Homo sapiens: one gene and its partners. The protein of the gene in region 7 purifies or fractionates together with the protein of the main gene of each other region. This does not show direct contact. Each region holds a gene or a part of one and is shown on either strand. Other genes may lie near its edges.

Region 1 (4,371 bases), on a different chromosome or scaffold from region 7:
AACCCTCTCAAAAAAAAGAGGAATAGGTCTTTGTCCAATCTCAACACTTCCCAACCTTCTTAATGACATACTCTTGTCCTATCTGCCTTCAGTGTCTAATTCTCTTGAGAATTATTTAAGTAACATACAATTAATTACAAATAAATAATAGATTTTTTTCCACTGGAACAGCACCTGAGGTCATATATTAAATCGCCTTATATCCTGAGATCTTTTTCTGGATTCTGTGTTCTGGTCCACTAATCTATTTGTTTGGTCCTATAGCAACACCATATTGATTGGCTAAAAGTAGTGTTATAGGATCTTCTGATATGTGGTGAGGCAAATGCCCTCCCAAGTATCACTGTTTTTTTTTTAATACTTCTTTGGCTATTCTTCAGCATTTATTCTACTAAACAAAGCTGAGATTTCATCCAATTAAAAAAAAACTTTAATGCAATTCTAATTGGAAATGAAATTAGTATGTTAATTGTTAGAACACGACATATCTTTCCATTTGTTCAGAACTTGCTTTATAACCTTCAGTAAGACCTTCTAGACTTCTCCATAAAGGTCCTGCCCCTTTCTCATTAAATTTACTTCTGCCTGGGTGTGGTGGCTCACACCTGTAATCCCAGCTCTTTGGGAGGCCGAGGCGGAAGGGGTGCTTGAGCCCAGGAGTTTAAGACCAGCCTGGGCAACATAGCAAGACCATGTCTCTACAAAAAAATAAGAAAATTAGCCAGGCATGGTGCTACACGCCTGTGGTCCCAGCTAGTAGGGAGGCTGAGGTGGGAGGATTCCCTGAACTCAGGAGATCAAGGCTGATGCAGTGGGCCATGATCACACCACTGTACTCCAGCCTGGGTGACAGAGTGAGACCCTGTCTCAAAAAATAAATAAATAAATAAATTTACTCTATGTATTTTGCAGGTTTTGCACTACTCTGAATGAAATATTTCTCCTCCTTCCATTTCTAAGTACTCACTGCCAATATAGACGAAAGATAGGAATTTTTATATATTTTATAATATCCAGCCATCTTATCAAATTATTTTAAAAATTCTAATACTATTTTTAAAATCTCTTGGATTTTCTAGAAATACAATCCTATTGCAGTTTTTTATCTGTTCTTTTCCAATCTTTGTAATTTCATTTTCCTGTTTTTCCCACACTTACTAACACCACAAAGAACAATAACGTTGATAACAGACATCCATTTGCTACTTGATTTTAATTGAAAATATTTTTAGAGTGGCCAAATAGTAAAGGATTTGCTACTGGGGCTGGGCGCAGTGGCTCACACCTGTAACCTGTAATCCCAACACTTTGGGAGGCCAAGGTGGGCAGATCACCTGAGGTCAGGAGTTTGGGACCAGCCTGGCCAACATGGCGAAACCCCATCTCTACTAAAAATACAAAAATTATCTGGTTGTGGTGGCAGGCGCCTGTAATCTCAGCTACTCAGGAGGCTGAGGCAGGAGAATCGCTTGAACCCAGGAGGTGGAGGCTACAGTGAGCCAAGATGGTGCCACTGCACTCCAGCCTGGGTGACAGAGCGAGACTCTGCTTTTTAAAAAAAAAAAAAAAAAAAAAAAAAAAGGCCAGCGCAATGGCTCACACCTATAATCCCAGCACTTTGGGAGGCCAAGGTGGGCAGATCACCTGAGGTCCGGAGTTCGAGACCAGACTGACCAACATGGAGAAACCCCGTCTCTACTAAAAATACAAAATTAGCTGGGCGTGGTGGCGCATGCCTGTAATCCCAGCTACTCCGGAGGCTGAGGCAGGAGAATGGCTTGAACCCGGGAGGCGGAGGTTGCTGTGAGCCGAGATCGTGCCATTGCACTCCAGCCTGGGTAACAAGAGCGAAACTCCATCTCAAAATAAATAAATTAATAAATAAATAAAATAAATAATTTAAAAAAAAAAAAAGGGCCGGGCGTGGTGGCTCAAGCCTGTAATCCCAGCACTTTCGGAGGCCAAGGCAGGCGGATCACAAGGTCAGGAGTTTGAGACCAGCCTGACCAACATGGTGAAACCCCGTCTCTACTAAAAATACAAAAATTAGCTGGGAGTGGTGGCGCACACCTGTAATCCCAGCTACTCAGGAGGCTGAGGCAGGAGAATCGCTTGAAACTGGGAGGCGGAGGCTGCAGTGGTGAGCCAAGATCGTGCCACTGCACTCCAGCTGGGCAACAGGGCAAAACTCAGTCTCAAAAAAAAAAAAAAAAAAAAGGATTTATTACTGGGTTTAGTGAATAACTTTTAATAACTAACTTTAGTAAATATAACCTAAACAACTACTTATTCTTAGTCCTGAGACTTCTTGGGCCAAAGTGTCATTCGCACATGTTCCGCAGTGTTCTTTAAAGCCCCACCCACACAGCTGCATGTGTGATTCACGCCCTTCTCAGGCCCTCCCTGGCTCAGCTGGGATGGGACTCAGTGGCAAACCAAGACAGTGCCCTCCCGTTTGGCCCAACCCTGGGCTATGTTGTCATCTCTATGCACAGGATGGTCCTGGAGCCACGGCAATGAGCAGACATTCTCCTCTGAGAACACTGTGGCCACAATAATGCCTAGCCTTATCTTGCTGGGCTGAGCCCCTTGCCTTCCTAGGGACATAGGGACAATAAACCTATCTAGTCCTTGCTACTTGGCTGACCTTTTGATTTTGACCACTGCTGCTTCCACAAGTTTGTCCATGAGTCTAATCCTGTCACAAATGCGCTTTATTGAGGAGAATAAAAACAATAAAGGAGCTTTATCTTTGGCTTTAGCGCTATGGCTTCCATACACATGTTAATGAATGAAAAAGCATTCATTGAAAGGGTTTAAATAGTAAAGTTTCTTTTTTTTTTTTTTTTTTTTTTTTTAGATAAGATATCACTCTGTCGCCCAGGCTGGAGTACAGTGGTGTGATCTCGGCTCACTGCACCCTCTGCCTCCTGGGTTCAAGCGATTCTCCTGCCGCAGTCTCCCAAGTGGCTGGGATTACAGGGTATGCGCCACCACATCATTAATTTTTGTATTTTTAATAGAGAGGGTGTTTCACCATGTTGGCCAGGCTGGTCATGAACTCTTGACCTCAAGTGATCCGCCCGCCTCAGCCTCCCAAAGTGCTGGGATTACAGGTGTGATCCACTGTGCCCAGCCAAAAGTTAAATTTATCTAAGAGAAAATGCCTATCATTTTAAACTCATTACTCCCAAACTTTTCTGCACATTACAATCACTTGGAAATCTTCTTAAAATTCCAAAAGCCAGGCCACCCAGACCAATTACATACACTACAATCTCTAGGGATGGGACATAGGCACCAATGTGTTTTTTGAAGCTCTCCTGGAGGTTCCAATGGGCAGGTAAGTCGGGGACCCCCACTCTAATCAGCATTCACTGAGCTGATAAGCTGCAGCGTAAAACGGGAGCAGACATCCCCACTCGGCCATCATTCCTTTAAGTCCAAAGCTACGAAACACACCTGGCGTGAGAAGCAAAGATCCGTCGGGAGTGAAACTCAGTCTACGGAAGAAAGACTTCATGCTGTCGTCGTGAAACATCCGGTAGCTTCTTGCCTGTCGCACACAAAATTTATTTTTATTATTTTTTTTGTTTGTTTTCTACACACAAAGCTTAAACATTTTTCCAAATCTTTACACTCACAAATAAACGCTTCCCAACTGCTATATGTGCCTATGGTTTTCTTTACATAGTGTCATTTATTGTTGACATAATCATAAATGAAACTGAAACACATTACAAATCAAATAATTGTACAACACTGCAAGGGTAAACATTCATGAAAACTGACCACACATTTTTGTTAGGTAAAGCTATATGTATATATGTGTGTTTTATGTGGTTCTAAAATTATTTTTAAAAACTCTTAAGAACACAAACCACAGGGTCAATAGTGGCATGTCTGGGGCCTGAGACTGGCAGACAGTGGGAAGATGACCAGGAGACCTCTGCTTTCTATCTGTGTGGATTCATTAGAATTTCCAACTGAATGCACTCTTTAGATACAGAGTCTCGCTCTGTCACCCAGGCTAGAGTGCAGTGGCGCAATCATAGGTCGCTGTAACCTAGAACTTCTGGGCTCAAAGCAATCCTCCCGTCTCAGCCTCCTGGGACTACAGGCACATGCCACCACATCCAGCTATTAACAAATGCACCCTTTAAAAAAAGAAAATAGTGGATTATTAAACTGGTAATCATTAATCTTTTAAAACAACATTTCTTTAACACCTGTCTGGGACAGTTTTTACTACTATTTATAAACATCAAGCATTTGCCAGACATGGTGGCTCACACCTGTAATCCCAGCACTTTGGGAGGCCAAGGCGGGCGGATCACTTGAGTCCAGGAGTACGAGACCAGCCTGGCCAAC
Region 2 (4,371 bases), on a different chromosome or scaffold from region 7:
AAATCCCACCCCTAGGTATAAAGACTAAAGAAACCGTCACACAGGCTTCTAAAGTGACATACACAGGATGTTCAGCACAGAGAGGATGTTCATCATGCCTTAATTTGTGTTATGGGAAGTTGGAGGCACTTAAGTAAGAAAATAAAGAGCTGTGGCTGCATAGGAAATACCATGCAACAACCAGAAAACCAGAAGCAACTTTACCTGTACCTGTAAGTCACACAAATATATCTTTTTTTTTCTTTTTGAGATGGAGTTTCGCTCTTGTTGCCCAGGCTGGAGTGCGACAGGATGATCTTGGCTCACCGCAACCTCCACCTTCCAGGTTCAATCGATTCTCCCACCTCAGTTTCCCGAGTAGCTGGGATTACAGGCATGCGCCACCACACCTGGCTAATTTTGTATTTTTAGTAGAGACGGGGCCACCTCGGCCTCCCAAAGTGCTGGGATTACAACTGTGAGCCACCGCGCCTGGCCCACACAAATATATCTTTATTTATTTATTTATTTGTTTGTTTTTGAGAAGGAGTCTCGCTCTGTCGCCCAGGCTGGAGTGCAGTGGCGCGATCTCCGCTCATTGCAACCTACACCTCCCAGGTTCACGCCATTCTCCTGCCTCAGCCTCCCAAGCAGCTGGGACTACAGGCGCCCACCAATACACCGGGCTAATTTTTTGTATTTTTAGTAGAGACGGGATTTCACCATGTTAACCAGGATGGTCTCAAAACTCCTGACCTCATGATCCGCCCATCTCAGCCTCCCAAAGTGCTGAGGATAACAGGCGTGAGCCACCGTGCCCAGCCCACAAATATATCTTTAAAACATATTAGTGCAAGTGCATATTGCATTTTTAAAAAGAGAACAAGATCACAATACCATATAGATAAATTAAGAATATATAGTAAACCACACGCCTGTAATCCTGGCTTCCTGGGAGGCCAAGACAGAGGTCTGCTTGAGTCCCCAAGTTTAAGACTAGCCTGGACAACATAGTGAGACCTAAAAAAAAATATACAGTATGCATACAGTACAATTCTTTGCCATCTAAAAATCTACCTTGAAGAAATCAAAGACCCATAAAAATTCATCACAAGGAGGTGCAATGCAGCATTGTAATCACAAAGGGAAATTAGGGATAACTTGAATATACACAATAGAATTAATTCAGTATGAAAAAGCCCTTCAATAAAATAATGTGCAGACAATTAAAATATGTCCAAATAGTTAATGTCAGAGGAAATGTTTCCACTCTAAGTCAACAGAACACATTACAAAGCAGAATGTATATCACGATCTCAATTTTCTTTATGTGTTTACTGTATATGCACATAATTATTAGAAACATATCATCAAAATGTTATTAGTGGCTTACCTGTAGGTAGTGGGAATAGAAAATGTTATTCTTGCTTGTGCTTTTTCCATGTTTTTCTTTTTCTTTTTTTTTTTTTTTGAGATGGAGTCTCACTCTGTCGCCCATGCTGGAGTACAATGATTCAATCTCAGCTCACTGGAACCTCTGCCTCCCAGGTTCAAGCGATTCTCGTGTCTCAGCCTCCCAAGTAGTTAAGATGACAGGCACCAGCCACTGTGCCCAGCTAATTTTTTTTTTTGTATTTTCAGTAGAGACGGGGTTTCACCACACTGGTCAGGCTGGTCTCAAACTCTTGACCTCAAGTGATCCACCCAACTTGGCCTCCCAAAGTGCTGGGATTGCAGGCATGAGCCACTGCACCCAGCCCATGTTTTTCTATATTTTCTTCCATAAGCATATACTGTTACCAATAACTTTTTAAGTTTATCCACAGTTAAAAGAAAAATCTATGATTAAAAATGGTAATCTGATACATATATGCTCTGACACAGCCTTAAGGTATTTGATAAATGTTTGCCGTTTATTTGAATTTACAAGTTAAAATAAAGTTTTAAGTCTTAAAATAAAGGGAACAATATGACAAAAAACCTGAATCACGATTCTAGTGGTAGAAGCAGCAATACCTTAAAAACAAGAGATCTTAATTTCCTCATTTTACACAAGAAAAAAACACCACCAATGTGTTTAGATAAGTTATAGAATATTTTTTTCCTAAATTTAAAATATTGTTTTCAACCAGGAGTGTGGCACACACCAGTAGTCCTAGCTACTCCAAAGGCTGAGGCAGAATTGCTTGAATTGGGAAGCAGAGGTTGCAGTGAGCCGAGATAGCGCCACTGCACTCCAGACTGGGCTACACAGCGAGACTCAGTCTCAAAAATAAATAATAAAATCGGCTGAGCGCGGTGGCTCACGCCTGTAATCCCAGCACTTTGGGAGGCCAAGGCAGGCGAATCATCTGAGGTCAGGAGTTGGGAGACTAGCCTGACCAACAGAGTGAAACCCCGTCTCTACTAAAAACACAAAAATTAGCTGTGCGTGGTGGCAGGCGCCTATAATCCCAGCTACTCGGGAGGCTGAGACAGGAGAATCGCTTGAACCCGGGAGGCAGAGGTTGCAGTGAGCCGAGATCATGCCACTGCACTCCACCTGGGTGACAGAGCAAGATTCCGTCTCAAAAAAAATAAATAAATAAAATAAAATCTTGTTTTCCTCCAGATATTTCAGCTAACCTGTATTATCACACTTGGCCAAATTGTTCACTAACATTGACTTGCTCCAGCATTGGCAATAGCGCTCAATTTTTTTTTTTTTGAGACGAAGTCTCGCTCTGTCGCCCAGGCTGGAGTGCAGTGGCGCGATCTCGGCTCACTCCAAGCTCCGCCTCCCAGGTTCGTGCCATTCTCCTGCCTCAGCCTCCCGAGTAGCTGGGACTACAGGCACCCGCCACCACGCCCGGCTAATTTTTTCTATTTTTTAGTAGAGACAGGGTTTCACCGTGTTAGCCAGGATGGTCTCGATCTCCTGACCTCATGATCTGCCCATCTCAGCCTCCCAAAGTGCTGGGATTACAGGCGTGAGCCACCATGCCCGGCCAATAGTGCTCAATATTTTATTCTTACCATTCCTACCTCTCATATGATCTACTTCTCTGTCTCTTCATCCCAATATAAAGCTGAGTAAAAATTAGGAGAGGCTGAACACTGTGGTTCATGCCTGTAATCCCATCACTTTGGGAGGGTGAGGTAGAGAGATCATTTGAGCCCAGGAGTTCATGAGTCCAGGAATTCAAGACCAGCCTGGGTAACATAGCAAGACCCTGTCTCTACTACCCCCCACAGCTGCAGCAAAAAAGAATCATGAGAGTCAAAGGGCCATTTTTCTTTTTTTGGAAATGGAGTCTCACTCTGTCGCCCAGGCTGGAGTGCAATGGCACAATCTCGGTGCACTGCAACCTCCGCCTCCTGGGTTCAAGCGATTCTCCTGCCTCAGCCTCCCAAGTAGTTGGGACTACAGGGACATGCCATCACCCCCAGCTAGTTTTTAGTAGAGACGGGGTTTCACTATGTTGGCCAGGCTAGTCTTGAACTCCTGACCTCAGATGATCTGACTGCCTGGGCCTCCCAAAGTGCTGGGATTAGAGGCATAAGCCACCGCACCCAGCCAAGGACCATTTTCAAAGATAGTGCATTTTAAGAAAAGTTTTCAGGTTTTCCCCCTTAATATTTAGTAGCTTTTTAAATTGTTTTGTGGATTAAACTAAGGCTTATAAAACACTTGTTCAAAAAAGCCTTAAAATTATTTAAAAAGCAATTATTTAAAAAGATACGCAGACAAAAATCACATAAATAATTCCTTCAGAGCAGAGATTCAAAACTAAGACTCTACTTGAGAGTCAAACATTTTGATTCATCATGTGCCAAAAAGATCAGTAAAAACAAATTTAAGACACTGCATTAAGAGCTACCTTACTATAAAATATCACATTATTTTTTATGGGGAAGTTTCGACTAATACCAAAGCAAACTCAAATGTTTTAGAGTATCACTAAAGGAATTAAAAAAAACAAAAACAACAAAAAAAAAACCTCTGTTTGGTTTGTGAAGCTTGGGTGTGGTTCCTTATTTGTCAGCCTGTACCCCCCCCTCCACCCACAATGAAAACCACATGCACTCTAAGTGTGTTTGGTGAAGAAATTTAAAAACCAGATGTAAAAACATGTCAAAAGCAAGTGAGAGTTTTGTACTTCCTTGTCTGAAAATTCCTGAAGAAATTGCATATATGTAGTTACATTTTAACAACTGAAATTACTTCAACATAAAAATGTAACAATTTGCCAGGGCACTGGTGCACCCCTGTAATCTCAGCACTTTGGGAGGGAGAGGTAGGAGATTGCTTGAAACCAGCCTGTGCAACATGGCAAAACCCCCGTTGCTACAAAAAAATACAAAAAATTGGCCAGGTGTGGTAGCACACACCTGTAGTCCCAGCTACTCAGG
Region 3 (4,206 bases), on a different chromosome or scaffold from region 7:
CCTCAACTTGTAAAGTGAGCCTGTCTGAGATGCTGGGGGCACTAGGGCTGCTGCTGCTCTGGTGCCTGCACTGCTGTGATAAACAGCCTGTTTGAGTGGGGTGTTCTCAGAAGGGGAGTCTCAGGGCATGACCCAAACTGTATTATCTCACACAGTGATCTCATTTGGCAGCCAATTCTCCAATTTTGCATGTTAGAAATCAGACATTTCTCTAAGGATCTGTGTTGTAGATGTGATGTGAGACTCTGGGGAGGAGTAGGTGACCTATTGAGTGAAGTCTGTTTACTTTACCCACTGTGCTTGGCATGTGTAATAGTCTATAGGAAGCATTTGGTGAGAACACTATTTGTAAACACCTGGCGCAAAGGTGCTGACATGATAGTTGTATTTCTGCAGCATCTGGCCACAGTGATCTTGGCCAAAAGCTCTTCCTTAAAGACTGGAGCAATTGCAGATCTGGAAACCTAACCTGCTTAACTGAGAGATGTGATGCTGGGTTGATTCAGTGTTCTTGCTCTATCTGGAGCATAGCTGGTGAGTGCTCCAAAGAATTTGAGTCACTCCTCTTCCTCTTTTTCCTTATCTTCCTCTTCCTTCTTCTTCTCCAATTATAAAATCACATTCTTGGAAAGCTTCCTGATCATTAGCCCAGATAAGAAAGCTCCAGCAGCACTGTTTTAAATGTTTAATATACAATGTTTAGTAAGCCCCATTGATTGCAGGAAGAGTTTTAAAAAGATGTGAAAGACATTCACATTGACAACATACGTATCGAGTGAACAATGTGTACTAAAATGAACAGATGAGAGGTATACATTGGGGTGTGAGTTGATAATCTAGCAGGTTGTGGGGCTAGAGAGCTTTTGGAAAAGACAATGGAAGAACATACAAACAAATTAAAAAATACCATTTTTCAAAGACTAAAACCTGTTTGGAAAGAGAGGTAGAGAAAGCAAACACATAGGATCACACTGAGTTTATATTTTCCCCTAGATTTCAGACTTTAAGTGCTCTGACCTCTATTCTGGAAAACTTCTAATTATTTACATAAGATACTGTGAGTCTATGCATCTTGTTCTCTATATGATGTTCACAGGGAAACATACAGGCATGGTTCAATACATAGATTTAAAATGAATGCTTGTAACTTTGGTTCCCTTTTCTCCATTTTCTTAATGTGGTGAATAAGAGTACAGTTTTACAAATGAAAAGCCTGTAGTACACTCCCTTGATGGTAGCAGTGGCAAATGTACTGGAGAGACTGGATCTCACTCTGGTATCTATCTTGGGACACAAGTGCCTCTTTGAGGGTTGTAGAAGACAACCCTCAAAGAGGAAAGGAATATAGGTAAAATCTGGGTTTCTGCAAGAGAAAGAGGTGGAGCAGAAAATTTCAGGCTTGAACAGGATCAACAGATGGCACAATGTGGTCAGTGCCTCCAAACCCAGAGGTAAATAAGATGCTCTTCTGTTTACAGTTCCAGGGAGGAGAGTTGACCTGGCTGTGGTCATACAGCTTAGCAAAAAAATCTGGGGCCAGAACTCAGGCCTTTGTTAGGTCTCTCCTTCCTTCTAGCACATTGGCAAATTGTACAAGGAAAGTAGAGGTGGAGATGGGTTCATGTACAAACAATATGGCATTCAGCTAAAGTGGATCAGGGCAGGAAGTTTTATGATTTAGGGAATGTGTAAGACAGGAAGCATTCATTGCCCCCAATCAAGAAAGAGAGCCCTTGACCACCAGTTAGAGAATCCCCCAAGTCCCTCTTTGCTGTCACTGAAACTGAGATCTAAGGCAGGGCCTCAGTGAGTCAGGGCACTTAATCCAGTGGAAAGATCCCAGAACAGGATATTTCCCAGTTTGAGAATCCCTGTCATGCCAGTTATGGATAGATTTGCATTTTAGTTGGGACATTGCTGGGCCAGCCCAGTTTTGGGTAGTTCCACTTCCTGCTGGGTGGGGTAGCAGGCCCTATAAAGAGGTTCTCTGCTCTACAACTCCTAAACTCCTGGTACTTGAGCACTGATCTGCTTTGGAGAACCTGGTGAGTCTGCTTCCTTGAGTTCCTCTGTTCTTTGTGCCCTGAAGTGTTGAATTTAACCTGAATCCAGCAAGTTTGGTGGATCCAAACCTGTGATCATAGGTTTGATGGTACTTAGTTGATGGAACTACAGGATTAGATTACATGATACAGTGTTTTACACAGATTTTTAAAAAATGTACAATTATATGTCCATATGGACAGAGAAGTTAATAGGAAAGTTTTGGTTTGAAGAAAGGGATGAAGTATTTTTCTCTTTTCCATATTTTCCTGGTATCCTTTTCAAAGGTTTGTGTCTTAGCAGGTGTGAGAGCCAGTACTTCTTCCTGAACAGCCCTTGCTCTGTGCCCAAGTCAACCCACTGGTGCTTTACAACAGATAATGATGATAGGAATAGCTTGTGAGATTGCCCAGGAGGTCTGAACTTGTGACTGCCTTTCCTGAAGATGTCATTTTCATGGAATAACATGCTTGCTTCTTTATTATAGAGATGTTTTCTTTGGAAAAATTGTATGAGGAAAGGCAGGAATTCCTAGGGCTGATGAAACAACTTGCTAAAGTGGAAAGGAGAAGACAGGAAGTCATGAAAAGAGAGCTAAGAGTTTAAATAAATTTTTGGAGATTGGAGAAATAATATGCCATGGTATTACATAAGCTTTGGCTTCTCTCTCTGGAGGAGTCCATTCCTGTGAACACTGTCATATCATTTCTTTCAGATTCTGAGACTCCAGCAGGATGTCTTATCAACAGCAGCAGTGCAAGCAGCCCTGCCAGCCACCTCCTGTGTGCCCCACGCCAAAGTGCCCAGAGCCATGTCCACCCCCGAAGTGCCCTGAGCCCTGCCCACCACCAAAGTGTCCACAGCCCTGCCCACCTCAGCAGTGCCAGCAAAAATGTCCTCCTGTGACACCTTCCCCACCCTGCCAGCCAAAGTGTCCACCCAAGAGCAAGTAACAGCTTCAGAATTCATCAGGAGCATGAAAGGATAAGGATAATTGGCTCACCTTGTTCCACAGCTTCACCTGCATCTTCTCATCAAAGCCTACCATGGATACACAGTTAGCTTCTTTCCTCTTAGCCAGTGATCTGCCCATGATGATCCCTGATAGCAAAAGGTTTCCTTTCTGAGGCTGCCATATTGCCACTGTCCAGGTGGAGACTGAGAAAGGAAGTCCTCAGCAGTGTCAGTTCCCAGAGCTTTGGAAGAAGGACCAGCAGCTCTGTCCCTGGGAACCATCAAAAAATGCTGTTGATGTTTTCTGTGTCTGTCTGTCACCTGGGCATGGGCTTCTAACACCTGTGCAATTGTCACTTTTCTTTCACTCCCTGAATAAAATATCTTTGCATACGTATTTGTGAATGGATCTTTTGTTTCTTTTCAAATCTGCTTTATTAGTAAAATTATATAATCATTTGGGTTTATTTCCACCTTTCTTTCAACCACAGTCAGAATCTTAAAATTTGGGTCATATCAAAGATTATGTCTGTATTATTTAAACCACTTTTATTTTCCTTAATTAGTGTTTGATTGATTTGAGGAACATATTATTCAACTTCTGTGAATGTCAATCTCTTTATTGCAAAGCGACCAAAATAACATTTACTTAACAAACTAGTCTTGGGATAAATCTAATTACTATCTGAAATTTTGTTGTCGCAATGCCTGACACATAATTAGCTGTCATTTTAGAAGTTTATTGGCAGTAACATATCATCATTGTTTCCACCATTACCACCACCACCACCATCATCATCATCATCATCATCACTCCCCATGACAACCACTACCATATTTGTTCCAGCAATAGAGTGGCTTGGATGTAACTAATATAAAAAATAAGAAGACTCTGTTTTTTTTTAAATTTTATTATTATTATACTTTAAGTTTTAGGGTACGTGTGCACAATATGCAGGGTTGTTACATATGTATACATGTGCCATATTGGTATGCTGCACCCATTAACTCGTCATTTAGCATTAGGTATAACTCCTAATGCTATCGAAGACTCTGTTTTTATTGGTTCCTAATACTTATACACATTTTTGGGATACGTGTGATATATTGTTACATGGATCAAATGTGTAATGATAAAGCCGGGATATTAGGAAATTTAGGGCATTCATCACCTTGAGCATTTATCATTTCTGTCTTTGTTGGAAACAT
Region 4 (4,371 bases), on a different chromosome or scaffold from region 7:
TAATTTAAATATTGACTCTTAATTCTACCAATATCTGCTAATCCTATCAGCTACCCTAGCTTTCACACAAAACACAAGTTGTTCATAGGTTTATGTTTCTGCTATGTTCAAGGTCTTAATATTTCAGCTATGTAATTTCCTCTTGACCCAAAGTCATTGTCTCAACATATCTCTAAATTGAGGCCATTATTGTCAAACTGCTAAAACTTTTTAAAGTTTCATTTTACAGTGTTAAGATTACTTTGGAAGATTTTTAAAAATAGTATCTTTGGTGTTTAAGCCCTCCATTCTATCAATGTCTTCTTGTTTTCACTAAAATTAGTGTGCAATAAATATCTCTTTAAGATGCATTATATGTTAATCTATCCAACAAAATATAGAAAATATAATACTAGACTGAAATGACAGTTAAAGCAAATTTATTGTCTCTCCAAGAGACTTTTTAAGATTATAAGGTGTCTATTTTGCTCACTTAAAATATACCCTGAGTATTTCATTACTTCATACTTGCAGGCCTTTCCTGCTGATCTGCTACCAATTTAAAAGTAAGTGAAGTGTTATTATATGTTCCTATTAAGAACAAAATAATTTAATATTAAAGTCCTATTTTTCTACAAGGCTGACATAATTGCCCACTTATAGGATATGGGCATTCTCCCACACTTAATGCCCCACTACTGATAAAAAAAAAAATAGGAAAAAAAAGTTCTTACCAACAATTCCACTGGTTATCGTCCCCAGCGAACCCCACCTAGCAAGTCGACATCATGACATGTCAGGTCAGGGCAGCCTCAACCTCGCTTCCCTGATAGTCAGGTGATAAAAGGAAGGAGTTAAAACAGGAAAAGTACACTTGCAGATTTCTGGATAACATCTGAAAATGATTAAAAAAACAAAAAAACAAAACAAAACAAAACAAAACCAGAGCTTCTGGTAACCTCTAAATAAAAAAGTATATATATGTACTTTTATTTAAAGAAAAAAAACTTTTCTAGAAGGATTAACAATAATTAACTTCAAATTAAATATTATTAAATTGCTGACCAATACATTGTATATGCAATATTTTTAAAGCTTGGTGTTTGCGTTTGAAAATTAAGACCTAATCAACAAACTTCTAATATAAAAGTAAACATGTCTGGCTAATGGATTTGTTATTCTGGATTCTCCAGTCAGTCATCCAATCTACTGGTTTCCTCAGAACAACTCCACCCCTAAGTTAACAGAAGCTCCCATTCTTAGAGAAACATAAACACACTTATAAATCCAGTGTAGTCTTTCTATAAGGCTTTTTCTTAGTTGCTCACTTAAGAGATTCCACATAATAATTGTCCACATAATAATGGACTACACTAATATTAACTTTGGTTAGTTTTCTTTAAGAATATTGGTAGCTCAGTATAATAAAATTATCTTTGAAAAATCAAAATGACAAGTTTTAACATATTTAGAAGCCTTGATAATTGACAAGCAATAGCCTTATAGCAAGTATTTACTGGAAGGGTTTGGTTTTACAAATGCACAATTAATAAAACGTAGGTATGATTATATTCAAATGGGCAGGAGGCAAATGATGTAATGAGTTTCAAGAATAATATTATATGGCTTTATGCTAGGAGTGAAATTTTATGTCCCTTCTCTTTTAGAATTTAAAATATATAATTTATTTTTTTGCATGCTGACCTTTTTAAAAAGAATTCATCTCCTAAGTCAGATTTCAAAGTCAAAAGAGAGAAAAATTATCTCCTACTATCAGAAAGCATTGGGCTTTCTTATGCAGAATAACCCCAGTAACTAAAAAAACCTGAAAAACAATTATGCTGAACTCATTTTAAAAAAACTACAGAATCATAACTCATTTTCCTTATCTTTTCACCAAATAAACCTGCATTTATTAGAAATCTGGCAACTTATTAGAACTTTTTTGCTCTTAAAAATTAAAATACCTTCATATAAATACATACATTTAAGCAACTGCTATAAATGAGTGATCAAATAAAAATTAGTATTCCATTATGGGGAGGGGCATATTTGTATCGGTCTCACCAGGGTACCTACAAAGAATAGCTCTATACCTCAATATATTTCCCAACACACACTTTACTGTAACAGGCTCATAAATAAAGCCAAATCAATTAGCTTGGGGAACAAAAAAGATGGAAAGACAGGAGAGCAGGAAACCAAATTCCTTACACTCATAATTTGTACCTAATTTAAAAAAAAAAAAATGCCAATCTAGAATAAAGACCTCCCTCAACTGACATTTTTCAGGTTTATATATTACACTGTTAGATTTATTTATGTGAAAAGTTGAGCTCTGAATCTATTTTCTCTGAATGCTGCTACAGTGTTAATTTACAAGACATGAAAGAAGAAAAGCTCTTGAGTTTTAATGTTTATAGGATTATGCTTTACAATTTAAAATAGCCACAAAACCTATAAACCAAATATTAGAGGGTACCTCTGCAAATATATTTTTAATTAGTGAAAAGGACAGAGGAGGAGGTGGCCACTTTAAAATTCAAAATATAATTTGCAATTAAAGGAAAGGATTTTGACATGGAACCCAAGTTTTAATCTTATGTTTTTGCGAGGGTTTGTTTTCTCAGAATCATTTCTATCCCCATTCTTAGCATTCTTTATGACAACTTTGTAGCTTGTAACACCTAATTAAGAAATACAAACAACTCAAATTTTATTTGTAGATTTTGTTCTTTCCAGGAAAAAAATCAGGGTTTTACTTAAGTCTAATTAGATGTATAGTTACAACTTCAAATTGTACTTTCAAAGTTTAAAAGCAGCATTTAAAGAATGTTTGGTGTCTTTACTTGCATACATGGGCATAAGAAAAACAACTGGATCTGTCTTACCAAAGAAATACCCATGTTAACTCAAAACTATCATACAACAGACCATAATTCCTTTATCAGTTTCCAAAAAACTAAAATATCAATAAGGTCTGTTAAATGACTATACTGTGTAATGAGTGTACTTTGAAAAAGAAATGAAATATATTGACTTTCATCAGTAAATAGTAATCTTAAATTGAAATGAAAAGAAGCCATGAAACCCAATATGATCTAGCCAAGATTACACGGAATTAAGTGGCTTATGATTTTGAAATCTAATATTCCTATCACAAAGACACCAAACAGGAACAAAACACAGAATAATGGTGTATCCATTTTAATTATTCCCCAATGGCTTCTGATATTTTTATCATTATAAAAACATTTGAGAACCACGTAAGAATAAGATGGAGGGGAAAACTTAATAGTAATTTGAAAGTGATTCACTTTTCTGTACCGTAAAGCTTAGATTCTTTTGTTCCTCTCATTCTCAAGCAAAAAAGTCATTAGAATAAATCAGAATTTCTAAAGGAAATAGGGAAATAGATGTTATGTCTTGGCCAACAAAAAATTTGGGCATCAGGGATAGCAGATAAATAAAAATAAACGAAGTGTTAACAGAAAGTCAAAGGTATTACTACTGGATATTTTTAAGCCTCTCTTACAAGGCATGAATGTTTCTCAAAGCAAATTTACATAGTAATAGGAAATTATATTCCTAAACCAGTAACTGAAATGGTAGTCACGATCATTTTCACTAAAACTAAAGTCCGCAGTGCAATTGACGCCACAGTACTAACAATTTTCCCTGTATGTACATTCACTTATCCAGCAAATAAGGTCTTCAGTCACAAATTATCCCTTATAAAGAATGTGGGTCAAAATAAATTGCAGTCTGCTTTCCCAGCCACATTTTATTTGTTTTAATGCAAATTATCCAATGCCTGCAAGAATGCTCAAAAGTCTATGAACCTGTTTTTTTTTTTTTAATAAAAGATAAAATTTCAAAATTAGAAGAGACTATGAGAGAACACCAATCAATGAAAGTGCTAATTGGAATAAATACTTGAATTTAGACTAATCCTCAGTCTAATATCCACAACACATGTTGGAATAAACAAGAAATTTTGCATGAATTTGATCACTCACATAGGCAGTTATACTTTGAAAACAATATTCCTTGCAAGGATTACGAATAAAATAATGTTTTAGGACACAATTGAATTTGAAATAGGTAATGTTTTGAATAGATTTTTTAGTTTTATTGAAATCTTACATGAACAAGAAATTGGAAATACAATCACATCAAAGAACAAATTGTCACGGCTTTTGACGTTTAAGCCAAACAAATTTTGTAGGGCAGATTTCAAAAAGGTGTGAAGTTATAACAATTTAAAAACACAGTTAACCTACTTCTAGGAATGCAAAACATACAATCATAGGTTATTTTCAATACAAGAAAACTTAAATTTGTTTGCTTTAATTTCTTAAAACTACTAAGACAAAGCACTAGCTTGTATTT
Region 5 (4,371 bases), on a different chromosome or scaffold from region 7:
ATGCCTGGCTAATTTTTGTATTTTTAGTAGAGACGGGGTTTCACCATGTTGGCCAGGCTGGTCTCAAACTCCTGACCTCAGGTGATCCACCGGCCTCTGCCGCCCAAAGTGCTGGAGTTACAGGCGTGAGCCACCACGCCCAGCCATATATTCTTATTTGTAAGCATTCGCCTAAAGAAAGTCTAAAAGAGGCCGAACGCGGTGGCTCATGCCTGTAATCCCAGCACTTTGGGAGGCTGAGGCGGGCAGATCACTTGAGGTCAGGAGTTCAAGTCTAGCCTGGCCAACACGGTGAAACCACGTGTCTACTAAAAATTAAAAAATTAGCCGGGCGTGGTGGTGCACGGCTACTCAGCTACTCAGGAGGCTGAGGCTGGAGAATCGCTTCAACCCGGAAGGCGGAAGTTGCAGAAAGCCGAGACTGCGCCACTGCACACCAGCCTGGGCGACAGAGTGAGACTCTTGTCTCAAAAATAAAAAATAAAGGGCCGGGCGCGGTGGCCCAAGTCTGTAATCCCAGCACTTTGGGAGGCCGAGGCGGGTAGATCACAAGGTCAGGAGATCGAGACCATCCTGGCTAACATAGTGAAACCCTGTCTCTACTAAAAATACAAAAAATTAGCCGGGCCTGGTGGCGGGCGCCTGTAGTCCCAGCTACTCGGGAGGCCGAGGCAGGAGAATGGCGTGAACCCGGGAGGCGGAGCTTGCAGTGAGCCGAGATCGCGCCACTGCACTCCAGCCTGGGCAACAGAGCGAGACTCCGTCTCAAAATAAATAAATTAATTAATTAAATCAAATTAAATTAAAAATAAAAAATAAAGTCTAAAAGAATATAAAGAGACTATTCAAAGTGTTTGGGAGAGGGCATGGAACCAGGTTAATAAAGAACAGAGATGGAAGTAAGATTTTTCACTGTTTTGTTTTTTGTTTTTTGTTTTTTTTTGAGATGGAGTCTCGCTCTGTCGCCCACGCTGGAGTGCAGTGGCGCGATCTCGGCTCACTGAAGCTCCACCTCCCGGGTTCACGCCCTTCTCCTGCCTCCGCCTCCTGAGTAGCTGGGACGACATACATGTGCCACCACGCCCTGCTAATTTTTTGTATTTTTAGTAGAGACGGGGTTTCACCGTGTTAGTCAGGATGGTCTAGATCTCCGGACCTCGTGATCCGCCCGCCTCGGCCTCCCAAAGTGCTGGGATTACAGGCATGAGCCACCGCGCCCAGCCGACTTTTCACTGTTATATAAATTTATTTTTTATTTTATTTTTTTTTTTTTGAGACGGAGTCTCACTCTGTCGCCTAAACTGCAGTACAGTGGCATGATCTCGGCTCACTGCAACCTCCACTTCCTGGGTAGAAGTGATTCTCCTGCCTCAGCCTCCCAAGTAGCTGAGATAGCAGGCGCAGGCCACCTCACCCAGCTAATGTTTCATATTTTTAGTAGAGAAGGGGGTTTCACCATCTTGGCCAGGCTGGTCTCGAACTCCTGACCTCAAGTGATCCACCTGCCTCAGCCTCCCAAAGTGCTGGGATTACAGGCATGAGCCACCGCACCCAGCCCTAAATTTATATATTAAAAAAGTTTACATTTAATAACCAGTTGAATGTATTATCTATTCAAAGATTAAATGTATCTTAAAAAAAAAAACTAAAGCTCACAAAAGATAAGTAATTTGCCTTTATATTAACCATCATATAGTTAATAACAACAGAGTTGAATACAACTAAGGTTTTCCTAATGTTCTTTTCCTTTTATCACACTGCCTTTTGGAAATTTTCAGGAATGGAAGACATAAAACTTATTACAACCAGGCTTTTCTCTGAAACAGCCACTGCCTGTGATTGTTCAGGGAAAATAACACTAGTGAGACTACACTGAAGTCATCTCCATATGATGACTTTGTAAATAGTATAATAGCCATTGTTGGGTCAAAACATTCACCATCACCCACACAATACAATGTAATAATTGGGCTTCATCTACTAGAAGGAGATGAAATTCCCATAAATGCCTTTACCATAGGTTTCAAATTCCAACACTACATTCTTTTTGCAAAACAAAATGAAATGTATGACACTAAGAATATATGTATAAATACTTTCATACAGGGAAGAAAGCATAAAAGCAAGTCAGTTTTCTCCTCAAAATAAGTCCGGGATGAGCATATTTAAATGTGTAATTTTCTTTTTACAATTAACTAAAACCTTTTGAGACCAGCCTGGCCAACATGGTGAAACCCCATCTCTACTAAAAATACAAAAATTAGCCCTGCATGGTGGCCCTCGCCTGTAATCCCAGCTACTCAGGAGGCTGAGGGGCAGGAGAATGGTGTGAACCTGGGAAGCGGAGCTTGCAGTGAGCCGAGATCTTGCCACTGCACTCCAGCCTGGGTGACAGAGCAAGACCCCATAAAAAAAAATTAATTAAAAAAAAAAACAAACGCACACACACACAATTAACTAAAACCATAAAAAAATGTTACTGAGGATCCTGAGGTGGAGAGTCCCTAGCCTCCCAGCATACACACACACACACACACACACACACACACACACACATATATACATTTTTTTTTTTTGAGACGGACTTTCGCTCTTGTTGCCCAGGCTGGAGTGCAGTGGCCCGATCTCGGCTAACCGCAACCTCCACCACCCGGGTTCAAGCGATTCTCCTGCCTCAGCCTCCCAAGTAGCTGGGATTACATGCATGCACCACCACGCCCAGCTAATTTTTGTATTTTTTTTTTCAGTAGAGACAGGGTTTCTCCATGTTGGTCAGGCTAGTCTCGAACTCCTGACCTCAAGTGATCCACCCGCCTTGGCCTCCCAAAGTGCTGGGATTACAGGTGTGAGCAACCGCACCCAGCCAGCACATATATTTTAAACAGAATCAAAGCCCATCATATGTCAAGCTTACAAAGGATTTTTTGTGTTTGAGGGTCTATCCCAAACATATATCTGTAAGAGAGAATAACACATCATACATCCAGGGCATCAAGTATCTGAGGATATCACCATTAATTCATATACAAACATCTGTACCATTTGGTACTACTTTTCAACAAGTGCCAAGGAACCACCAATCCAACTCTGGGTCCCTCCTTGGTGAGCAGGCCCACCTATAGGACTTACTATCTCCTCTGCTCAATCTCCTGCTATCATGCTGGACAACTGTGACATTCATATTGATGACATATTCAACACAGCCCCCTAATCTCCCACTACTTCAATAACCTACACCTCCATTCCCCTTCAACAGCATTGAGACAGTTAAGCCAGTTTTTGTCTTTACCTTGAAATAATGAACTCTGGGCTGTCCAATTATATATTTCTTACAAAATCTGGTCTTCAACCACATTTCTGATTGTCTTTTTATTCTCTAAGTACACCAGCCTCCCTCTAGATTTTGCTTCTTATAACTCCCAGCTTGGTCCCTTGGAATGAAACATATCTCCTACACTATCAATAGCAGTGTAAAGTTGCTTCCCATTTTATCTTTCTGTCCTGCAAGTTTCCATTTTGAATCAATCCAACCATCTTTTTTGTCCTACTATTCTTAGGCTGTTGAAGAAAGTGTAAAATCCATGCTCCTGGGCCCCATTACAAATATATTATTTCTAACTAGTAGGACCCTCAATGTGGTCAACAATCTTTTAGCTCCTGAGTTTTTTTTTGCTTTTTTTTTTTTCTTTCCCCCAGGCTGGAGTGCAGTGGTACAATCTTGACTCCCTGCAACCTCAGCCTCCCGGTTCAAGCAATCCTCCCACCTCAGCCTCTCCAGTAGCTGGGACAACAGGCATGCACCACCACACCCAGCTAATTTTTTAATTTTCTGTAGAGACGAGGTCTCACAATGTTGCCCATGCTGGTCGCAAACTCCTGGGCTCAAGCGATCCTCCCACTTCAGCCTCCCAAAGTGCTGGGATTAAAAAATCCAAAGTGAGCCACTACACCTGGCCAACAATTTTTTTTGTTAAATCTTTATTCTCTTTCATTTTCCATTTAAGATTCCCATGGCCATAATACTCAAGTCAGAAACTCACCATAGTGTCTTCAGTCTCCAAACTGACTTCTCCACAGATAAGTAATCACATCGATAAGGCCATCTGTTAAACTCCCTCACTTTCCTTCCCTTCTACCACATCATTATCCATTTTCACTACTATCCTTTTGGTGTCAAAGGGCAAAATGCCTGACTGACATATTTCCTAGATGAACCTTCCCCTCACTTACAGAACTGTTTCACCTGTACTGAAAAGAAAAACACACATGTGCCATAATGGAAAGAACACAGGTTTCAGAACTAGACATACCTGCTCAAATCCTTGTCCACAGTACTCTCCACTGTAAAAGAGGGATACTGACATGTTAACC
Region 6 (4,371 bases), on a different chromosome or scaffold from region 7:
AATTGCTACTTCCAGAACACACTTGCTTACAAACGCCCTCCTTTGGGCTATAAAATAATTCTGTTCAAACAGGCTTTAAAATGTAGGCTAATTATTTGTTTTAGGGAACTCCTTTTTCCTAGCTGTGTATATTTCATGAATTTCACTTTTTTTTTTTTTTTGGAAAAGTAGGGAAAGTGCCTCTAAGTCAATTGCTGTTTTGTTTTTTGTTTGTTTGTTTTTTTGAGGCTGGCCTGGAACTCCCAACCTCAGGTGATCCACCCACCTAGGCCTCCCAAAGTGCTGGGATTACAGGCATGAGCCACCGTGCCTGGCCCCAATTTCTCTTTTTAACGAAGTGTGGGCCTCAAGCTCAAGCCTTCAGCAAGCCACAGTATCTCACTAGAATTTAATGAGGCTGTTTTGCACAACTAATGGATTCAGTAGTGGGTCCCTGCTACTGCTCTGTAGACTGGGGCTAAAAGGGTTTCGGTGCTAATGCAATGGTTCTCAAAGTATGGAACCCGAACCAGCAGCGTCACTTGGGAACTTGCTGAAAATGTAAATTCATGAGTTCTCATCTCAGATCCACTGAGTCAGAGACTCTGCGGGTGGGGCCCAGTAATACTCCTCACCCTCCCAGGTGATCCTGATGTTGTTAAATTTTGAGAGTCCCTGCTCTGCTTCTCTGTCAGGTTCATTCTTCCACCCAACCAACTGGCAACCTCCTCGGCCCAGCCGACCCCACGGGCCCAGTGCCTGTCCCCTCCTCCTACCATGTCCAGCTGCTTGTGGGTGTCCTCCAGTGCCACCTCAGTCACCTCCTTCAGGTGCTTGCTCACGATCTGGAAGAGGTTCAGCGTGGCCATCTTAATGGTGCCAAGCAGGAGGGTCTTCTTGGCTGCGGTGTTCTGGATGTGCGCCCAGCGAGATTCCTGGAGAGTGGATAAGGACGGGGCATGAGCACAGCATGTGGTGTGTGTGTGTTTGTGTGTATGTGTGTGTGTGTATGCTCAGGGCCCGCACTCACCCAGTGCCTGGGAGCCCCCGGCCCGCCCCGGGCCCCTCACCCAGAAGATGACATTGCTGCGGGCACGGTCAAAGCGCATCTGCAGCCTTGCCAGCTCATTGTTTTGCTGCAGGATCTCATCATCCTTTTCCTCCATGTAGCGCGCCAGCCGGGCCTTGGCGCGCTCAATCTTCTCCTGGCCTTCCTGCGCAGACTGCATGAGGTCGTGGCGCATGCTCACCAGCGTCTTGTAGCGTGCAATCACCTCATGGATCTCCTCGAACTGTGGTCAGGGGCTCAGGTCAATGCACAGCCAGCCCCTGGGGCCTGAGGGAGCCACCCAGTCCTGCCAACCTCCAGCCTGGATGCCTGGACACCTGGACACCTGGGCAGGCAGGCCCTTGGCCAGGGTCACGGCCAGAGGCTGTGAGGGACACTGGGGTTCCGCTGCCTGCTTCTCCTGGGTTTGTACGGGCCACGGTCCATTTGTTGGGCAGGGGGATGCACAACTGGGCTAGGGATTTTCGACTTTAACTGCATGTGAGAATCACCTGTAGGGGCTTTAAAAAGGACACCTGCCAGTCTCCACCCCCAGAGATTCAGATGAATAAACAAGTCTTCTGTGGTCTCTGGCATCTGAATTTTGCAAAAGGTCCCCTGGTGGCTCTAGGCACAGCCAGGGTTGATAATCGCTGATGGAAGGCATTTTGCAATGTCTTCCAAGGCAAGAATTTCCTATTCAACAAGATTGTACCAGGAACCACTTACAAGCCAGGAGCTATGCTAAATGCTAGGGAAATAGCAGGAGTTAGGAAAACCAGATTCTGCTCTTAGGAAGCTTACAGCTTGGGGGGTGGCATGGAGGGAGGACAGACAGACAAGTAAACAGTCAGTTACAACAGCAAGATAAGCCCTATCTATGACTGGGGGATAGGGCTGGAGGGGACTCTGGGAAAGCCTTCACGTTGGTGATCTCTGGTATTTGTTCATTTACTGAGGGAGAAGCAGGGATAGAGAGGGTGCTGGTGGGGCAGGTGGCCTGCCAGACTCAGCTCACCTCCCCCAGCCTGGTCCAGAACCATGCCACTCTGGCCCTAACCCTCAGGTCCCACTCAGTGGAACAGAAGCCATGAAACCCACGCTCTTTAGAAGGCAGCATGAACACCAGTTCTGTGATACCAAGTTGCCTTCCTAGGGGCTTATCAAAGCATGCCTTTCAGCCGCCCAGGGGAAACTTCCCGAGCACCTTCTCCATCTCGTGACATCTCCAGTGATGGATGCGTGTCCTGGGAACTGCCCTGCTGGCCTTTCCCCAAATATGCCTCTTTGGGGAAGGGCCACCCAACCCAGCACGGAAAGAGGTAGGAACAGCCAGAAAAGGTTTCATGGGAGAAAGTGTGGCTGAAATGAGATGAGAGGTATATAAATAGAAGATAGCTAGCAAAAGCAGGTGTAGGGAGGTGAGGCAGTGCTACAGGTGAAGGAGACAGCCTGGGCAAAGATGAATGGAATAGGGGGTTGTATGTTCAGGATGCTGAAGGTAGCCTGAGTTCAAGATGGGGAGGGAGAGACTGAGAAGAAGAAGAAAGGAAGAAGAAAGCAGAAGAAGAAAGAAAGAGGGAAGGAGGAAGGAAGAAGAAGAAGAAGAAAGAGAGAGAGGGAGGGAGGGAGAAAGGAAGGAAAAGAAAAAAAGAAAAGAAGAGGGAGGGAGGAAGGAAGGGAAAGAAAAAAGAAAAGAAAAAGGAAAGAAAGAAAAAGAAAAAAAGAAAAGCAAGCAAGCAAGCGAGCTCAGTAAACCTTGGGAAGGAGTGTGGACTTTATCCATTGAAGGATTTTAAGAAACAGACAATTCACGTGTGCATTTCTGAAAGTTCATCTGGCACACAGTGCAACAGTGTACCACAGTTCAAATAAATGGACCACATCAGAGCTACTAGGAACACACCTCTAAACTTAATGCTGATGTCAAAAGGATTTAGGTGCCAAATCGAAGAGCCACCCACTGCCCAAAGATGAGATGATTTGAACATTAGTAAGAATAAGTGCAAAGGATTAAAACATATCAAATATGTTAAAAATCCATCAGTTCACAATGATACTAGAAACATTACAGGTCAGTGCTAGAGAACAAATTCATTATTCTGAAAACTAAATAAAGCATTTAACAAACTTTCTCTGCGAGACCCACATAGTAATCAAATGGTGGATGAAGGAAAGGATCTCTTTATGAAGTCCTTTTCTTTATGGTAGTATTCTAGCAAATAAATGAGGAAGGGTTGCTAGTGAGTGTCTTCCCCCGACCAGTGAGGAAACCAATATTCTGACTTCTATCAATAAAGATTAATTTTACCTGTTTTTAAACACATCAATGGAATCATACGATATAACCTCTTTTGTGTCTGGCTTAAGAAGCATACCAACTAAGGGCAGTGTGAGGACCTTATATGGACTCTCATTGGAACAAACCAACTGTACAAAAAGCATCCGTGCAATAATTTGTCTTAAAAGACAGGGTCTCACTCTATTGTTCAGGCTGGACTACAGTGGCATAAACACAGCTCACTGCAGCCCTGACCTCCTGGGCTCACGCAGTCCTCCTGCCTCAGCCTCCCAAGTAGATGGGACCACATGTGTGTGCCACCATTCCTGACTGATTTTTATTTTTTAATTTTTTGCAGATTTGGGGGGGGTCTCACTTTGTTGCCCAGGCTGGTCTTGAACTCCTGGGCTCAAGTGATCCTCCCACCTCAGCCTCCCAAAGCACTGAGATTACAGGCATGAGCCACCACGCTTGACCCATTTTGTGCAATAAATGATACTGATATTTGATGTTAAGGAATTACTATCAATTGTATAGTAGGTGTGACAATGGTGTAGTTATTTTAAAAAGAGCTCTCATCTCTTAGAGATACATACTGCAGAGAGACGCAAATGGATGAAAATATATTGTTTGCTTCAAAATGGCAGAGGTGGGAAAGTGTGGGGGATGTGACTATGAATTAATCATTATTAGAATCAGGTAATGAGCAACAGGTGTTCAATAGACTATTGTCTTTACTTTTGTGTATGCTTAAAAAATTCCGTATAAAAAGTTACAAAACATTAAATGTGACAAAATAATAAGCATGATTTGAGATTTTTTTTTTTTTTTTTTTGAGACGGAGTCTAGCTCTGTCACCCAGGCTGGAGTGCAATGGCATGATCTTGGCTCACTGCAACCTCTGCCTCCCGGGTTCAAGCAATTCTCCTGCCTCAGCCTCCGGAGTAGCTGAGATTACAGGCACCCGCCATCACGCCCAGCTAATTTTTGTATTTTTAGTAGAGACAGGGTTTCACCGTGTTGGCCAGGGTGGTCTCGAACTCCTGACCTCGTGATCTGCCCA
Region 7 (4,371 bases):
TTCCTCTTTTGCATCAGGCCAAGGCACTGGATAGCTGAGGTTGCCAACCAAATAACTTACAAATAAGTGAGATGTTCCTGTAGTTCAGTTGCATTATATTCTAAGAAATGAACTTACCCACACAGAAAGCAGAAGGAACACAGTGGCTTCTGGAATATTCCTCTCTCCCTCTCCAGAAGCAGAGGAGGAAAAGTACATTTTAATCCATTCATCCTAACGAGACAGCACAGCATCTTCTGACCACCAGAGGGCACTGTGTAAACAGTAGGCTTTTCTCAGCTAAAAACGCTTCACCAGGAAATCCCTTATTGCACATGGCATTCATATTCTTAGGGTTCGTTTTGTAGGACTTCTATTTCAAAGTACTAATTCTGTGGACTCAGATTTTGTCTGGAACCCACTTAAAAATGCCCCTCCCTGTATTTTGTCTCAGCTGCCACCACTATGTACCAATCACCTAGACTACTTGGGAGCTACCTATAACTTCTCCCTCATAATCAACCATTAAGTGTTGCCAATTTTCCCATTAAATATTTCTCAAATCTGCCCATCTACTCCATCCCTACCTTTCCTGCTCTTGCAAGGCCTCTGTTATCACTCCTGAGTTATTAAAATAGGCTCAACCAGTCTCTCAAATCCTTCACTCTCAGGTAATCTTTTTCTTCCCAGAGCAATGCTGTTTTGAAGATGATTCATGAAGAAGAAAAATCATATCACACTATTCTACCATGGTTCCCCTCACATATCTTCAGACTAAAGTATAAAATCATTATTGAGGCATACAAAGCCCTCCATGCCCACCCATCTAGTCTTACATGTTTAGTTACTGCCTGCTTCAAACTTCATGTTCAAGCAACATAAAACTGCTCATCACCACCTTCACCCTCCTCCACACACATCCAGTATACTTCATAAATTTCTTACTTCCCCTGCAGTTTTACTCATGCCGATTGGTTCTTTGGGTCTGAACCTCCCAGATATCATTTAAAAATCAGTTTATCACCTCCTGCAGAAAGCCTCTGTAACACCTTCCTCTCCCACTATTTTAGGTTTTGATCTCATTGTGTATTACCTCTTTATTTTGCACTTTTTACACTGTATTTTAATAATCAGAACAGCTACATAAAGTAGGTGTTAAAGCACAAACTAACCAGACTGCCTGGGTTTAAATTCTGGCTCTGCCACTTATTAAGTGTGTGACCTTGAGAAGGTTGCTTAGTCAATTTGTGCTTCAATTCTCTAAGAAGGGATGGTAATCCTTTCTACCTCTGAAGAATTATTGTTAAGTATATCTCTCATGGAGTAAGTGCTAAATAAGAATTGGTTATAATTATGTGTTGGTCTCCCCCATGAGATTGTGAGCAACTTTAAGGCGAGGACTTTGGCTTTTTCATTTCTCTGGAATATTAAGTATTCAGTAAGTGTTACTGAATGAATAACTGGTGAGACAGCTCTATGATGATGGGAGGGATTACCCAGTTTCCTTCTTTGAGCAGATCCTACACTTTTTTTTTTTTTTTTAATTGAGACGGAGTCTCGCTCTGTCACCCAGGCTGGAGTGCAGTGGCACAATCTCGGCTCACTGCAAGCTCCGCCTCCCAGGTTCACGCCATTCTCCTGCCTCAGCCTCCAGAGTAGCTGGGACTACAGGCGCCCACCACCACGCCCGGCCAATTTTTTTTTTTTGTATTTTTAGTAGAGACGGGGTTTCACCATGTTAGCCAGGATGGTCTCAATCTCCTGACCTCGTGATCCGCCTGCCTTGGCCTCCCAAAGTGCTGGGATTACAAGCGTGAGCCACCACACACCCGGCCAGATCCTACACATTTTAAAAAAAATTGTATTGTTTCCAATTTTGTGGCTCCAGTTTTGTTTAATTCAAACCAAAATCCTGAAAACATCACAATCATATAATTGAAATTCAACAAAATGAAACCAATTTTAAAAAATCATAAAATGCATGTTCATTCTAAGAAACTTAACTCCATTTTTAAGCTTTAAGATTCCCCCGATCCCAAATAACCTAACACACCAAAAGCCTTGCCATTTCACACATGCTGTTCCTTTGCTTAGAACCTTTTCAATGTCTAGCTCACTCTGTTTGGGACTTCTTTTTTCTTTTCTTTTTTTTGAGACAGGGTCTGGCTCTGTCATCCAGGCTGGAGTGCAATGGGGCAATTTCGGCTCACTGCAACCTCCGCCCTTCCAGGCTCAAGCGTTCCTCCCACCTCAGTCTCTCGAATAGCTGGGACTACAGGCATGCGGCACCACGCCCAGCTAACTTTTGTATTGTTTGTAGAGACAGGGTTTCGCCATGTTGGCCAGGCTGGTCTCAAACTCCTGAGATCAAACAATCCGCCTGCCTAGGCCTCCCAAGGTGCTGGGATTACAGGTGAGAGACATTGTGCCTGGCCTCTTTGGGAAGTTTTTTCTGATCTTAGGGTGAGGCAGATGCCTCTTCTGTGCTGCCAAAACAGCCTATACATACAACAATATGGTACCAATAATGCATCATCCCAACTGTGATGCTCTGTTACCACACTTAAGGCAGATATTGCAATTATTTGGCTCCCCTGCTTTACTGCAAGCTCCTTGACATCAGGGCAGTATCTCAGTCATTACTGAATGTCTGACATTTAGTTGATACTTGATGAGTTTTTGAATGAATAAATGTTTAAACAGGTAAGTTTTATTTTGCTTATCAATTTTTTGTTTATTTCAATCATGGCAACTTTTATATAGTGGTTGGAAATTAAAATTAAAATTAAAATTTAAAGCATTTTCCCATACATTATACAACTGATCTCACAACCACCCTGAGATAGGTATTTTTATTATCCTCATTTTGCAAATGAAGAAACAGGTTCAGTGGCTGACTTCCCCAAAACTGCTTATCTTGTAAGTAGAAGCTGAGACTCTTGATTCAAAGCCCTAAGTTTCAGTTTGTGTAAACCAGACAACACTCTTCTGAATATGACTATTAGCTGAAGTGCCCCTTTGGAACATTCTAAGCCTCCTAGAGTCACCTTTTTCATGAATCTAAAAGCTCTCATCATTCTCTTACTGCTCCATCTTGCAGGAAGAATGTCCAGTCCCTTCCCTAAATCCCCTTCCATCTGCTAACTCCCCACTGTCCACCAGAGCATGCCTCTTCTAATACTTCAGATTCAAAGTGGGGATGGAACTCATCTCTAAAAACGACTGCATGCATCTCATATAGACAAAAGAAAATCTGGTTAATTCTTTAATCTTCAAATTTTATTTTGAAAACTATTTTAAATTCAAAGACAGAGTAGTATAAAAACCACCCACGTCCCCAACACTCTCAAATAACCAATGTTGTAATTAACTTTCTATGTACTATTTTGGGGCTCTGTTTTTAGATCATCATCAACTTCTTCACAGTTCATTCTTCTTAAATACACATGGCTAAGGAGTGAGACCCTGCCGCTTCCTCCCCAGTATCAGTCTCTTCCATGCCACATCTGAAAACAGCGGTCATTGACCCTTCTTTCGTCCAATTTCCTTTCCATATGTTCAGCATGCAATCTTTGGTGCTGATCAAGAGGAACCCCATCCCATATCAGCACAGGGATATATTGGCAGTGGTCTTCATGGCAAGTATACCCACTCCTTCCTAATTATAAATTATGAAACTCTCTATAAAGGTGAGGGTTTGCTTTTGTTTTCATGTGTTTGGCTGCTGTAAATCAATCCATCAGAGGCTGGGCAACAACATTAACATGAACAAAGTATGAAAAATAGCCCACCATGATACAGTAAGTATTTAATAAGGACAAACCTAAAATAGCAGCCCAGTTAATCAAATAATTTTAAATCAGCCCAATGCAAAACACTCCCCTTTCCTCTACCTGGCAATTCTTACCAACCTGAGTAATGTGAACAGAGAACATGAGTCCATGAATCACCACAGGCCATCCCCAGGCAGAGTGAGGCACACACAGCTGTGATCAAATGTTGCCTTCTCTCGTTTTAAACAAGGAATTAACTGTACATGGTGATTATCTCTGGGGAGTGGGAGTCAAAATGACTTTCATTTTTGTATTTTATGTACTTCAATACAGGCTGAATTTTTCAAAGAGCATGGATTTTATAATAAAAAACATTTCCATTTTGAGAAAAAATAGACACGAGTAACCCTTAATTTGGTTCACATAAGAATATGAGAAAAAATAATTTCACCATTTTAGCATGAGATACTAGCACAGAAGAAAATGTCAGGAGAAAACATTCTATAGAGACCAAAGTGACCTCTCAAGAAGATGTTTCTCAAATATACCTCATTTTTTTTGGGAAGACAACAGATTGCAGCTTATTAACAAAAATCTATGGAAATTTTTCTGTATTTCT

What was found.
Region 1: the proteins of ZBTB1 (region 7) and CHAF1B purify together in Homo sapiens (co-immunoprecipitation; one large-scale study listed by IntAct). This does not show direct contact.
Region 2: the proteins of ZBTB1 (region 7) and STK38 purify together in Homo sapiens (affinity purification with mass spectrometry, with the first as the bait; one study listed by BioGRID). This does not show direct contact.
Region 3: the proteins of ZBTB1 (region 7) and SPRR2E purify together in Homo sapiens (affinity purification with mass spectrometry, with the first as the bait; one study listed by BioGRID). This does not show direct contact.
Region 4: the proteins of ZBTB1 (region 7) and HNRNPR purify together in Homo sapiens (affinity purification with mass spectrometry, with the first as the bait; one study listed by BioGRID). This does not show direct contact.
Region 5: the proteins of ZBTB1 (region 7) and TESK2 purify together in Homo sapiens (affinity purification with mass spectrometry, with the first as the bait; one study listed by BioGRID). This does not show direct contact.
Region 6: the proteins of ZBTB1 (region 7) and CCDC42 purify together in Homo sapiens (affinity purification with mass spectrometry, with the first as the bait; one study listed by BioGRID). This does not show direct contact.

The regions. Positions count from the first base shown.
Region 1 is NC_000021.9:36,401,943-36,406,313, reverse strand, and holds part of CHAF1B (chromatin assembly factor 1 subunit B), read right to left. Parts: intron 3,557-4,371; coding exon 3,463-3,556; intron 1-3,462. UniProt on the Homo sapiens protein: Acts as a component of the histone chaperone complex chromatin assembly factor 1 (CAF-1), which assembles histone octamers onto DNA during replication and repair.
Region 2 is NC_000006.12:36,540,397-36,544,767, forward strand, and holds part of STK38 (serine/threonine-protein kinase 38), read right to left. Parts: exon of another isoform or gene 1,373-4,371; intron 394-1,372; exon of another isoform or gene 205-393; intron 1-204. UniProt on the Homo sapiens protein: Serine/threonine-protein kinase that acts as a negative regulator of MAP3K1/2 signaling. Converts MAP3K2 from its phosphorylated form to its non-phosphorylated form and inhibits autophosphorylation of MAP3K2.
Region 3 is NC_000001.11:153,092,323-153,096,528, reverse strand, and holds SPRR2E (small proline-rich protein 2E), read left to right. Parts: upstream 1-2,002; 5' UTR 2,003-2,045; intron 2,046-2,758; 5' UTR 2,759-2,777; coding exon 2,778-2,996; 3' UTR 2,997-3,394; downstream 3,395-4,206. UniProt on the Homo sapiens protein: Cross-linked envelope protein of keratinocytes. It is a keratinocyte protein that first appears in the cell cytosol, but ultimately becomes cross-linked to membrane proteins by transglutaminase.
Region 4 is NC_000001.11:23,305,699-23,310,069, forward strand, and holds part of HNRNPR (heterogeneous nuclear ribonucleoprotein R), read right to left. Parts: 3' UTR 1-4,371. UniProt on the Homo sapiens protein: Component of ribonucleosomes, which are complexes of at least 20 other different heterogeneous nuclear ribonucleoproteins (hnRNP). hnRNP play an important role in processing of precursor mRNA in the nucleus.
Region 5 is NC_000001.11:45,484,264-45,488,634, forward strand, and holds part of TESK2 (dual specificity testis-specific protein kinase 2), read right to left. Parts: intron 1-4,371. UniProt on the Homo sapiens protein: Dual specificity protein kinase activity catalyzing autophosphorylation and phosphorylation of exogenous substrates on both serine/threonine and tyrosine residues. Phosphorylates cofilin at 'Ser-3'. May play an important role in spermatogenesis.
Region 6 is NC_000017.11:8,734,341-8,738,711, forward strand, and holds part of CCDC42 (coiled-coil domain-containing protein 42), read right to left. Parts: intron 1,272-4,371; coding exon 1,050-1,271; intron 915-1,049; coding exon 756-914; intron 1-755. UniProt on the Homo sapiens protein: Essential for male fertility. Required for sperm development.
Region 7 is NC_000014.9:64,507,131-64,511,501, reverse strand, and holds part of ZBTB1 (zinc finger and BTB domain-containing protein 1), read right to left. Parts: intron 254-4,371; exon of another isoform or gene 118-253; intron 1-117.